Linked DNA regions of Homo sapiens. The protein of the gene in region 1 purifies or fractionates together with the protein of each later gene. This does not show direct contact. Each region holds a gene or a part of one and is shown in the gene's direction. Other genes may lie near its edges. The genes, in order: DYNLT5 and ITPR3.

Region 1 (3,913 bases):
GCAAAGCTCTCTGCTGGGCAATGGTGACAGGAAAGTGTGTAATTGACTTGTTGAAGATAATCATGAGACCATCTTAACATTACTTGCCTTATAAGTTAGAAATAGTATGGATATCACTCTTTGTAAATAATAATTTTTGTAAATGTTTTTTGTTCATAATTTTCCCAATCACCTATTTCACAAAATCCTGAATATGCAATTATTTATTATGACACGTTACTGCAACTAGGGCTCCCATTCCAGAACAAAGTTTAATTCTATATGTAAGTTGTTACTGAAATGTGATTTCTTTTTCTGGAAAATAAATGAAAAATATGAAAATAAATTGAATTGTGAATATCTTTTGCTGTCAGCCTCTTAAAATTTTACCCGCATTTCTGGAAAACTTCATTCCATGTTTAGGGTAGGGATGGTGGGCCAAAGGTCTGTCAAAGGTCAAGGGTTAAGAGTTAGACAAATTTCAGCTCTGTGATTTAAATATCGACTTGAGCATGTTACTCAACGATTCTACATTTCCTTATCTTAAAAAAAAATAGAGTAATGTCCCCTATGTCATAGTCACTGAACAAATTCAATGAGATAATGTTTATTCATCACCTAGCAGTTCCTATCTAGTCCATAGTAGATATTCAATCAACAATCCTTTCCTGTTCTTATCTTTCTGTGAGTAGAGATTGGGATGGGCAAAAATATCTATTTCTCTTCTTCCAACACTATCCTAACACTGTGCTCCACCGGAATCCCAATGTATTACTGTCAGCTAATGCTAATTCCAGCAGGACACTCATCAAGAGCCATGCCCTTGGCTAGATGCTTGGAGGCATCTTGTTTCTGCTTCCAATGATTGCCCACTACAGGAGGGTCCCTATAGTGTTTATTTTGTTTGCTTTTGGTTTGGGGAGGCCCAAACCAGGCTTAGGCTGGGGATAGTCGCTGAAGAAGAGGAAAAGCCCATTCATACCAGCAGGTAGGTCCTCAACCCCAAACAGCCTCATTTCAAAGCTTCTTAGACATTAACAGGCTCAGAAGAGTCTTGTTAAGGAAAGCGAAGGAACCCAGCCCGGTTTGTAACACATTGGAGTTAAGACCATGAGTTTCAGGGGCCTTGGGCATATTATTTAACATTTTAGAATCTCAATTTTCCAAATCCTTTAAAGGGAAAACATTCCTTTCTTGACAGAGTTATTGGGACGACTAAATCCCAATGTTTGTCGGTATCTGGGGTATCTGGCCAATGTAAGTGCTCATTTACCTCCACATTCCACCGCCTGTGCCTTGGAGGGGGAACGTGCGAAGCAGCGTTAGGAGCCGGGAAAAGGGCAGGGCTACTTTACTTTGTCTTTGCGCTTCGGATTTCCTGTGCTAGGAAACCGCAGCACTTCCCACTCCTGCCCCTGATGTCTGCGGGAAAAGGAACTTGATGAGGGGCCCTAGGGGTGCAAATGTCTTTAGTCCCAAATGTCTTCCTCGCTACACAATGAACCAGTTCCCCTCCAGCTCGCCGCCAACCCAGGACGCAGCCCGGCTCAGAGTGACCCCCAGTGGGCAGTGAAGATGAGATCCTCTACATCCTTAGGGCAGCTCAGAGGGCCACTCAGCGGCCAAGTCCGGCCGGGGAGGGCCGAGGGCTCTGTTTGAGGTCACCCTGGAGACCGGCCTCAGAGTCCAGGGAGAGTGCGCGGGCGGCCGCCGGCTGAATGAAGCCTGGGACGCGGGAGCCGCGCCGCGCGCAGTGTCTGCAGTGCCGGAGGTCTGGGAGGCTCCGGGCGAAGCCTCCCTGCTGCAGGTAGGGTCGCCTCTCTCTGCAGCGCGTCTGGACCCCAAAGGAAGGATAGGGGGCAAGGGATCGGCCCTTTGTTGAGAAATGGCCCTACTTGGCCCCGATCTCTCCGCCACCTTATTCCTCCTCTCCCCAACACATAAGAAAAAATGATCCCAAATTTGGGAACTGAAAGTCGGTCCCAACGGTTCGTCCCCTGCCCCATTGCATGGCTGGGGGCTGGGCTTCAAGAGTGATGGCCAACGCAGAGCCGGCCAGCAAGGTCATCCCCTGACCCGGGGCGGTCTTCCTGTGGCTGGCCGCACCCATGAGGACCTCCAGGTCCCAACTCTGGCCTTTCTTGGGGAGGGGGCGGCCTGCAGGGCAGCTTTGGAAACAGCTGAGGCCGAGATGGGTCTATGTGGCTTTGCAGCAAAACCTGAATGACCCACCTAATCAGGCTGTGTGTCTTTCCACACTCATAAACACACTCACCTTCGTACACACGAACACAGACACACTTATACACACAGGCACCTGCACACACAGAGATGCACACTCACAGGTACACACTCAAGGACGCTCACACTCACGTGCACACACACACCACGCTGCCTGCCTCACCCACACACAGCACCTCTGCTCTGACATTGATGCCACTGGGTTTTAGGGTATGTTCTTGTGTGCCCTACCTACTCAACTGCCAGCTCCTTGAAGGCATGGATTCTCTTCTATTTTTATGCTTTGGTGTCTAGCACAGTATTTCCTTATCGGGGCTCTCACATTTATAGATTATGAAATAATTTAAATGAATACTTAAATTTGTAGGTAGACAATGAGGGCATTATTAGAGTTATAGTCCAAGTTCTGGGAAGTCCATTGCTACTACCAGCTTTTTAACAAGTATTAGTAGGAAGGAGGGAGTTTTCCAATAAATTATTTATTTAAAAGTTAAGTCCTATTTGCTCTTTACAAACTATGTAAATGTTGCTCGAGAAAACAAAACAAACAACAAAAAATCTTTGGGAAAGCAAGGTTAATTTTAATTTTTATTTATTTATTTATTTTCTAGCTCCCTACCCCTAATTTTATTTTTTAAAGTCATGGTGGGTCAGGCACAGTGGTTGATGCCTGTAATTCCAGCACTTTGGGAGGCCAAGGCAGGAGGATCACTTAAGGCCAGGAGATTAAGGCCAGCCTGGGCAACACAGAAAGATCTTGTCTCTACAAAAATGTTTAAAAATTAGCTAGGCATGGTGGTGCAGGCCTGTAGTCCTAGCTACTAGGGAGGCTGAGGTGGGTGGACCGCTTGAGCCCAGGAGTTTGAAGTTACGGTGAGCTATGATCATGCCACTGCACTCCAGCCTGGGTAACAAGAGCTAGATCCTGTCTCTAAAATAATAAAATAGGCCAGGTAGAGTGGCTCATGCCTGTAATCCCAGCACTTTGGGAGGCTGAAGCAGGATTGCTTGATCCCAGGAGTTCAAGACCAGCCTGGGCAACATAGACCCTATCTCTACAAAAAATTAAAAATTAGCCCAGCTTGATGGCATACACCTGCAGTCCCAGCTACTCAGGTGGCTGAGTTGGGAGGAACGCTTGAGCCCAGGTGTTTGGGGCAGTAGTGAGCCATGATCATGCCACTGCACTCCAACCTGGGTGACAGAACAAGACCCTGTCTCAAAAATAAAATATAACAGTGACAGCAAATATTAATTAGCAAAGTTGTATTATGGTTACATTTGGGGGGCAATACAAATATTGGTTTCTGATGTAGGATAGCATCTTTCTGCTATACATGCATATCTTTTGTCAATGACCTCCGTCTTCATCAGCTAAGCATTTTTGCTATAGCTTAATATCTGCTTATGTAAATAATTATACTATTGCATAAATAAGCATTTTCAGAGTTATCATAGTTCCAGTTTCACTGATCAGAATAACAACAAATTCTATATATTGCTCTTGAGGAAACCCCACTTTCCTGTTCAAAAATGGTAGGAAAACTATCTGTGTACTTTGAGATTAGTCCCTGTTATACTAACTAAAATGTTTCCGGATCTTTCTTTTGCTATTTTACAAAAGTCTTCTTCCATAGGTTATGATGATGTCAGACAATGCTAAAGGCAGAGCAGCTCATTCATGGAAGAAAAG
Region 2 (3,813 bases), on another chromosome or scaffold:
ACTTCCAGGAAGGGGCTGGTTGGCTTCTCTACACTCTGGGGCTGCTAAGGGCCGACCCAGCAGCAAGGGACTGGGGAACCTCCTTCCAGAGGAAGCCTGGAGAACCCAGAGGCCTGCTAGTGGGGTTGGAGCTCATGAGGGGGTCGGGACCACCCCTCACTCCTGCAGCGCCCTCCTGTCTATGCAGCACATTTCTGTGCGCTGTCTCGTTGGCCTGTAGAGGGGGTGTGGTGGATTATTTTCCCCACGTGGCAGGAGACTGAGGCTCAGAGAGGCTAAGGGGTTTGCCCAAGGTCACACAGAGCTGGGAGAGAAGCCAGGCTTGGCAGCTCCCAGCCAGGGCTCTGAGCAGACAGACATCACGCTGTGTTCAGGGTGTCTCTGTGGGTGTGGGCCCCTCAGACAGAGGCAGGGCAATCTGTGGGGCTGTTTGGCGTTTGGGTCGGAGGAATGGCAGTCACACCCGGGTCATTTCTTGGGCCTGGCAATGACTCTGCCCTGCCCACCCCAGGACATCATCACAGCCCTGGAGGAGCGGCTGAAGCCCCTGGTACAGGCTGAGCTGTCCGTGCTGGTGGATGTCCTGCACTGGCCTGAGCTGCTCTTCCTGGAGGGCAGTGAGGCCTACCAGCGCTGCGAGAGTGGGGGCTTCCTGTCCAAGTGAGCGAGACACTGGGGCATGGGGGCAGCAGGGGTGCAGCGGCAGGGGACAGAGAAGGGCCCGGTGGGGACTAGACAGGCTCACTGGGTCAGAGGGCCTGGGGGTGTTCCTGCCTGGGATGGGGTGGGGAAGTAGCTGGAGGGAGGCAGTGTGGGGCTGCCCTGAGCTGCCTCCTTGGCCGGCTCAGGCTGATCCAGCACACCAAGGACCTCATGGAGTCGGAGGAGAAGCTGTGCATCAAGGTGCTGCGGACCCTGCAGCAGATGCTGCTCAAGAAGACCAAGTACGGGGACCGGGTGAGTGCCCTGGTGGGGCAAGTGCTGGGTGGGCCAGTCAGGAGTACCCAGGGGCTCAGGGTCAAGCCCGTCAGGCCAGTGGTCAGTGGTGGGCTGTACCCACAATGGGGCCTCACTCCCATCCTCCCCCAGGGCAACCAGCTGCGCAAGATGCTGCTGCAAAACTACCTCCAGAACCGGAAGTCCACCTCGCGGGGGGACCTTCCCGACCCCATAGGCACTGGTCAGTATCACCTTCCCCTGCCCCCGGGCCCTCCCTTCCACTCTCCTGTCACACCAGCTCTCCCTCAACCGAGTCCCGCCTCCAGGCCTGGACCCAGACTGGTCGGCAATCGCAGCCACCCAGTGCCGGCTGGACAAGGAGGGGGCCACCAAGTTGGTATGCGACCTCATCACCAGCACCAAGAACGAGAAGATCTTCCAGGAGAGCATCGGCCTGGCCATCCACCTGCTGGATGGTGGCAACACAGAGATCCAGGTGTGGGGGGCCTGGGGCCTGGACATGCCCTCCTTTGCCTCCCTCCCTTTTTGGAGGAGGTGGGCCTTGAGTTGGGCACTGAAGGCCGAGGAGGGTGTGAAAGAGGAGAGGCCTGAGCAGTGGCTGAGAGGTGAGAAGAGTGGGCATGATGGGGGCAGGGTGGTGAGGAGACGGGCTCAGGCCTGGCTGGGGCAGAGGGGTATGCGGGGGTGATGAAAGGACCACGTGACACAGGAGCAGATATGGGGCATGGAGCCGCCCATGGGTGGCCATGGATGCTAGCCACCAGCACCCAGGCCTGCAGCCAGGCCCCTGCAGCCCCAGCGGCCCCAGCAGTGTGGTGTGCCTGCCCCACGCCCTGAGTAGGAGCAGGGCCCAGTGCTGAGGTTGTTCCCTGGCCACTGTCCACCTCCAGAAATCCTTCCACAACCTGATGATGAGTGACAAGAAGTCAGAGCGCTTCTTCAAGGTGCTGCACGACCGCATGAAGCGGGCCCAGCAGGAGACCAAGTCCACGGTGGCAGTCAACATGAATGACCTGGGCAGCCAGCCACATGAGGACCGCGAGCCAGTCGACCCCACCACCAAAGGTCAGGGGTCTGAGGCAGAGGCACGGCGTGACGGGGATCCCAGGATAAGATGTGCAGGGGGGTGGCCAAGGGGGTGGGCAGCTCCAGCCTCACCAGGTCTCGCCCACAGGCCGCGTGGCCTCCTTCTCGATACCTGGCTCCTCATCCCGCTACTCGCTGGGCCCCAGCCTGCGCCGGGGGCACGAGGTGAGCGAACGTGTGCAGAGCAGTGAGATGGGCACATCCGTGCTCATCATGCAGCCCATCCTGCGCTTTCTGCAGCTGCTGTGTGAGAACCACAACCGGGACCTGCAGGTGAGTGCCTCGCCACACACCTGCCCCTTCCCCCGCTGGCCAGCCGGCATGCAGACTAGGCAGTGTGGCTGGTGTCCCTCTATGGCAGGTGTGCCCTGCCCTGGGCACTGCTGCTTTGTGGCTGGTGGTTCCCCTACCCCTGCAGCACACAAGATCGTGCTTCCCAGGCCAGCCTCCCTCTCCGTGCTGTAGCTGTGCTGTGCCCAACCCTTCTGTGCCCCGCAGAACTTCCTGCGCTGTCAGAACAACAAAACCAACTACAACTTGGTATGCGAGACGCTGCAGTTCCTGGACATCATGTGCGGCAGCACCACGGGCGGCCTGGGGCTGCTGGGGCTCTACATCAATGAGGACAACGTGGGCCTCGTCATCCAGACCTTGGAGACCCTCACTGAGTACTGCCAGGGCCCCTGCCATGAGAACCAGGTGAGCTGTCCTGGTGGCATAAGTGGCAGCCAGGGTGGCAGTGTGGACATGTGGGTAGATGGAGCCAGCTGGGGCAGGGAGAGAGGCTGAGGTCTCTGGAGCTGCCACTATTCTGAGAGGGCCTGGGCCCTGTGTCCCCCACTGCCTCCTGCCAGACTTGCATTGTGACTCACGAGTCCAATGGCATAGACATCATCACCGCACTGATCCTCAATGACATCAGCCCCCTGTGCAAGTACCGCATGGATCTGGTGCTGCAGCTCAAGGTGGGGCCCAGTGGCAGGTGTGTGAGTGCTGGGTGTGCATGTGATGTGCATGCATGTATGTGTGACTTGTGTGTCAAGTGTACATAGTGGTGTGTAATGTGGGTGTTAGCATTGTGTGATGGGGCATCATCTGGATGCACAAGTGTGTGGTGTGTGCAGGGTGTGTGTGTAATATACGCATGTTTAAGCATGCTGGAACATACACTCACTCTGGATGCAAATATATTCTGGTTTAGCTGAGGACTTGCTATGTGTGTGTCTGCTGTCTGGGTAGCTGAGTGTTTGCCACAGCGGGGGTGAAGGCAAGCCTATGGGTGGGCTGGCTGTGCAGGATGCTTCTCATTAAGCCGGGGGGAGGGAGGATGGGAAGGTCATGGCACCTGACCTTTTGTTGGATGGGAGAGCTGTTATGGAGAGGAATGAGGGAGAAGTTGTCAGGGGCATGGTGTCCTGAGACTGTGGCCTGCCTCCCTCTGCCCCTCCACCCAGGACAATGCCTCCAAGCTGCTCCTGGCTCTGATGGAGAGCCGGCATGACAGTGAAAATGCTGAGCGAATCCTCATCAGCCTGCGGCCCCAGGAGCTGGTGAGGCTGGGCAGGTGGGCAGGCGGGCGGAACCAGGTGGAGTGTGTTGGGATGGGGATGAGGGCCCGGCTGGCCCTACCGCCCTAGGAAGAGAGCATTGGAACAGGCACTGCCCCTCCAGGTGGACGTCATCAAGAAGGCCTACCTGCAGGAGGAAGAGCGTGAGAACTCGGAGGTGAGCCCACGTGAAGTGGGCCATAACATCTATATCCTGGCG

Evidence for each region.
Region 2: the proteins of DYNLT5 (region 1) and ITPR3 purify together in Homo sapiens (affinity purification with mass spectrometry; one large-scale study listed by BioGRID and IntAct). This does not show direct contact.

Annotation. Positions count from the first base shown.
Region 1 is NC_000001.11:66,750,799-66,754,711, forward strand, and holds the start of DYNLT5 (dynein light chain Tctex-type 5), read left to right. Parts: upstream 1-1,660; 5' UTR 1,661-1,786; intron 1,787-3,857; 5' UTR 3,858-3,860; coding exon 3,861-3,913.
Region 2 is NC_000006.12:33,683,509-33,687,321, forward strand, and holds part of ITPR3 (inositol 1,4,5-trisphosphate-gated calcium channel ITPR3), read left to right. Parts: intron 1-511; coding exon 512-660; intron 661-848; coding exon 849-957; intron 958-1,089; coding exon 1,090-1,180; intron 1,181-1,265; coding exon 1,266-1,435; intron 1,436-1,850; coding exon 1,851-2,025; intron 2,026-2,134; coding exon 2,135-2,319; intron 2,320-2,544; coding exon 2,545-2,745; intron 2,746-2,900; coding exon 2,901-3,011; intron 3,012-3,500; coding exon 3,501-3,596; intron 3,597-3,717; coding exon 3,718-3,813.